Linked DNA regions of Homo sapiens: region 2 is linked to region 1. A link means that fine-mapping ties the variant in region 1 to the expression of a gene that starts in the linked region. Tissue or cell type: whole blood. Region 1 holds a variant in brackets; the other region holds the start of a gene. All regions are shown on one strand. Distances are between the middles of the regions.

Region 1 (2,685 bases):
TTTCCCCATTTGGATTAATATGAAGTCTTATAGATTAACATAGACAAGTAAACATTATTAGTTACCTTAATACTAACCAGTGAATGCAATATATTTTAATAGAGTTTATACATAATAATGCCTATCAGTTCCAAGCTTGATGCTAAGAACTCCATGAATGTTATTTAATTTTTCAAAACAATTCTGTCAGTGTGGTATCATCATTGAAACTGAGGCTTTGAGCGATTCAATAACTTGCACAAGATGACCCATTTACAAGGGATTTGTACTCGCCCATCTGACTCCAAAGCCTGATCTCTTTATCACTACCATGTACTAGTAAGAGTAACCATATTTCAAGTGACTTTTAGTCATTTTGGGCAGAAAGTTATACTAGTATCTGCTAGCAACATGAATATATTTTTAAAGAATGAGGGACAGCATGTGTCGGTGTTTTTAAAATGGGCTGACAGTGATCTGTAGACCATGTGAGCTGGAATTCCTTTATCAATACCATGCAATTCTATACCTGAAGACTAATTTAAAGACAGGAGGACTCTATGTACATATTTCAACTCATCAGGGACCCTTAAAAATCTTTGCAGTACCACAAATCACTTAGCTCTTAGTGACAAACCCATGAGAAGGCTGACATTTTCATACAGAAACAGCTGGGTGTGTTTATAGCTGGAGTGTGATATGCCCTAGTTGCCCTCTGGGATTCTTACATTACCAGATGAAAAATGTGTACCTTTTTGACAATCAGGTACACAGAAAGCAATAAAAAGCCTTTTATATCCGTTAATTCCTTCTTAATTTAATCTCCATGCCCAATCCATTTACAAAATGCTCCAGGCTATCCACTAGATACCTGTTTGCACACTGAAAAGGGGTGAAACTAAATTCTCCTGGGTTTAACTACCACCCTTTTAATCAGAAACCTTAAGATGGTGACTAAACAAGTATAATGTTCCAGTGTGTCAATGGGGTTCACATTTTAAGAAGACAAGAAATGTGCAACAATCCAATTTTTAATGGGATACTTATCTTTTTTTATATTCATCAAAGCTGCCATGAATTTAGCAAAATACTACTGCTGCCCATCTGACAATATATTGTCATTTATTGGTGATTTTGTTATTGTGAAAGCATTTGATGAAATCCAATAAGAGAAAAACATCACTTTACCATTCAGTGCTCAGTTTCCTTGCTTTCAACAATTGACGTTCAATCCAGTTGGGCTTCTGCTGCTCAATGCTCTGTATGACCTTTTGGATCATTTGATTATGGATACTTGTCTGGTCTCCCATGATGCTTTTCAAACACATACAAATTAAACCCAATTTTTCTTTACTCCATCTGTCAAG[A/G]GAGGCACCTGTTAAAAGTTCCACAGTGTTTCCGTCCTCAAATATCCGACATATAATTACAATCAAGTTCCAGACAAGCAGGCCAGCTTTCTTCAATTCAACAAATTTTTTTGACATTTTTCTCTCAGACAGAAAAAAGAAGTATTTAACTGGGGGAGGCAAACATGCAATCACCGTAGGTAACTTGCTGATTACAATAGATACTGCCTGAGCAGTAAGCCTTGTGAAGCCTGGGGAAGAAAAGAAAAGGTATGATTAATATTAGCATTTGCGTTCAATCACTGCATGGTTTTGTGTTGTATAAGGATGTCTAATTTTTGTGGAGAAAATTGGCAAGAAGATCAAGTGCCTGACATATTCCAACAGAACTCTAACCGGGGTCTCTCGCAGTACTACCTAAAATTCCCCCAAATCAAAATCTGTTTTTTTTTTTCTCTCATAAATGATTAGAAAATTTAGACTCATAATTTATATTCTTATCTTTCAAGACTGCAGCTGTCCAGGACCCAGGTGGCCTCCTCATTAACAAATGCAAAGGTGCCCAGCTGGGCAGCTTTGTAGGCTTTGGTACTTCTGACTCCCCCTTAAGCCCTTCTCCTCCTCCCTTGGAATCCATGACAGAATCATTTCAGCTCTCCTCAGGACTGGTTTCTCTCCTTTCAGTTCTCAACCCAAATGTGACCTCCTCAGAGAGCCTTGCCTCACCATCTTATCTCATCTCATCATCTCATCTCAGTCCATTTATACCCTTCCATCACAGCCCCAAGACCCTCTCTTTTGGGGATCCCCATTTTGTTGCCTTTATTATAGCACTCCCCATCATCTAATAATTATGTCCTTTTCCTGCACACTGTCACCCTCTTCTAAACTATAAGCTCTGAGAAGGCATTCCCGTATCCCTAGCACTTATTACCTCTTATATAATAGTTGTCAATAAATATTGGTTGGATGAATGAGTCAGTAAATTGGTTCTTGCTTACCTCCATCTCTCCTCTTTGCTTCTTTGTGTCCTATGCTATTTCCACTTTCTATTAACATCGCTTAGATGTAGGTTTTTGCTAAGAAGTCCTTAGCCTTTTGGCTGATGATTCCACATGTTCTTCCTTGTTTGGTGCTATTTCACATTTATGATCTTATTTAATGCAACAGCCTTAGAAGATTATTCAAATATGTGTTGGACCTAGTTTTTACAAACTTATAAAGACTGTTCCAATTAATTTTTAAATGATTCTCAAGTTGTCATGGATTGCAGAGGAGTCACTAGATTAGACATATTTTCCAAGAAAAATGTATTAATTCTTCTTCTCTGTATCAGGGTTTCTCAACTTTGGGTTGGATG
Region 2 (2,685 bases), 220 kb after region 1:
TATAATACATAATATCCCTGAAGTAATTTATAATACTTTCAACTGGAGAAATAAAGAAAAAATACAAGATTCAACAAAATGTCAAGATTGGGATTAATGGGGCGATTATAAGTTTGTTGAATTATTAACCAACAAGGCCAGAAAATCAATGTGCTGTCCTAAATATGGTTTGTTGCATTACTCTCAAAAGGTTAAGAAGACACTGGCCTGGTGTTAACAGGGGCCTTGAATTGAACATATTGCATTTTTCTTTATCGGTATGCTCCGATAAAGAAAATGTTTTTATGGGTATGAGGAGCATACCCATAAAAAAAATGCAATAGTACCTACAACTCTTTCGGGAACTGACTGTTTTGAAAAAATAACAGTCAGCTGCCTTTTACGGGGGTTGGTGGGGAGGTAATTATCTAAATATAAGGTGGCAAGTGAAAACTAGTTACCTAAGAAATTGCATTACTTAAGAGAAGTCGCCAAGGTTCACTACATCACATCTTTCAAATCTTAAATGAGCACCTTTCCTCACATTATCCCTTTGTCGGAAGCAATTTCTCTTTACAACTATTCTGGCTACCTCAGACCTCCATCCAAAATTCTCCTGAATCCTTCATTATCGACAAAGCCTGGAGCAGAACGCAAGCATTCCTTTCTGAAAGCACACATACTTACTGATCACTGCTTTCCAAAAATGCATCTAATGCCCAAGCATGAAATTACAAGCTTGTTCTCTTATGTCTCAGCCATGAAAACAAAGACCGTTCTTCTCATCCAATTCAAATGGCGGGAGGAACCTTCAATTAATTCTAAATCAGGAAGGAACCTCCCCATCTCACTTCCTAAATGTTTGTAAAAGATGTCTTCTTCAGCCAACCTCCTGCCTTCCAGGCACGGCACCCCAGAACTACGGAAACAGTACTCAGGAATCAAGAGTGGCCAAACGCTGCCAATGGGAGATAGGAAACTCGTTGATCATTGGTAGAGAAACTCGGCACAACGCCGAGTCACGGTACACGGTGTCTTCGGCCTCGCCCAGGGACACTTGGTGACCCGAGGTCGAGTTCCAAGTCGGAGACAGATTTTGCGAGTGGATAAGACGGTAAGCCGGGATCCCAGGGCCTTCTCCAGCTGCACTGGGTGTCAAGCGCCACGGGGTTTGATGGGGACTCCTTCTGGTTCCACCCTCGCCCACTCACTTCTCGGGCTGGCCATAATGCTGCACAGAGCCCCGGCCAGCCATTAATATCAGGCGCAGGAGAAAACCCAGTAAAATCACTTACCAGTCTTCCACCTCCGGTGCTGATCTAGCAAGAGCCTGACCCGCTGGCCAGACTCAAGCTCTGCACCAGGTATTACCACCCTGGCGACGGCTCCGGAGCGTCACTGACAACCACCCGGAAATGGTACTATCGCTTCCGGGGCTGCCTAGCGCGCGGCGGGAAATTGTTTCCCAGAGCCCGGATTCGTGAAGCAGTTGAGTGCTGCAGCGGCAGTCGTCGCCCCTGCCGCCGCTGCCACCGAAGGAAGCATCCCAGACACCGGGAAGGTAAAGGGGCTCAGCTAGGAAGACACAGTGTATTCTGTCTCTGTGGGGATGTTTCTTCGCCGGGCGGTACCTCCGAAGTTTCTGCCTCCCGGCTGTGAGGCTAGGAAGGAAGCGGCTGGGGTGAGCGGCAGCGGTGTCTGGCTCTCGCGCTTTCTCCAGCTGCAGTTCGTTCCAGCTCTCCCGACTTCGCGCTCGGCGCCGGAGTTGGTGGGCTGCAGCTGCAGACCCCGCGACGCTTCGCCCGTGCCGCTGCGGGGACTGCCACCGAGCGCCCCTCTGCAGTACTGGGCTGAGCCACTTCCCCCGCTTCTGCTTGCGCAGCTCTGCCGCTCGGCCCGCCGCCTGGAAGGCGCTAGGCCCCCCGCGTCTCTCGTTTCCATAGAACCCATGGGGACGCCTCATCCTGATACCAGAATTTTGGCTGCTTTCCATAACTTAGCGTCTGCGAAGGTGGCTGGGATACCCCAGGCCCACTTTCCTGTGACGAAGAAAATTGTGTCATTCTTTCCTCTCTAGTAGAATTTTTTTTTTTTAAACTGCTAAAACGGCAGTGATCCTATCTCTGACTGCTATAGGCCTTTAAACACAAACATACACACATACACTTTTCGCTGAAGGGAGGGTCTGTGTTCCTGGGGTTTATATTTCAGCTGCCTGAAGGCTGGAAACAAGACTGAGTGGCTATTTTAAGATTTCTTCCACTTCCAAAGCCTCAGATTAAATATTGACAAAAAAAAAATTGGTCCGTCTCGGGTACTTCATATCATTATTTGACTCAGGAGTTAGATGGAGCTTGATTTTGGAGGCGCCAGCCTCTTTTTTGACGAATGACTTTATTAAAAAATTTTGTTGTTGTTGTTGAAATATTGGGAATGAACATTTGAACTGAATTTACAATGTATGTGTGACAGACAATGCACCTTGTGGACTTTTTGGTTTATGTTATTCCGTTGTGCCTCAATTCTTGGAAATACCTGTGGATGTGCAAGATGTTCTCATTATTGGAAAGTTTGATTACGTATATTGCAGGTGTTCAATACCTAAGTTGCTAGTATGAGGTGAATTTATATTAAAGAGTATATTTCTTTATTTTCTTTTCTTACCTTTCCTTCCTTCCTTTGCTTTCTTTCTTTCTTTGACAGAGC

The links. PIP is the estimated chance that this variant, and not a neighbour inherited with it, causes the effect.
Region 2: it holds the start of KIAA0825, and the variant in region 1 is fine-mapped to the expression of KIAA0825 in whole blood (INTERVAL, PIP above 0.99). The same link has a PIP of 0.9 or more in nasal epithelium.

What each region holds. Positions count from the first base shown.
Region 1 is chr5:94,394,934-94,397,618 of GRCh38, forward strand. KIAA0825 reads right to left here. Exons shown (of 21, transcript NM_001145678.3): 17 at 1,168-1,576. Among named protein-coding and RNA genes, the nearest start is that of KIAA0825, 220 kb to the right of the region's middle. The variant A/G (reference allele first, on the strand shown) is at 1,347.
Region 2 is chr5:94,617,226-94,619,910 of GRCh38, forward strand. KIAA0825 reads right to left here and starts at 1,379. Exons shown (of 21, transcript NM_001145678.3): 1 at 1,275-1,379. It overlaps SLF1 (SMC5/6 complex localization factor 1), which reads left to right and starts at 1,444. Exons shown (of 21, transcript NM_032290.4): 1 at 1,444-1,540. RefSeq lists enhancers at 393-1,257, 996-1,175, 1,486-1,665, 2,056-2,165.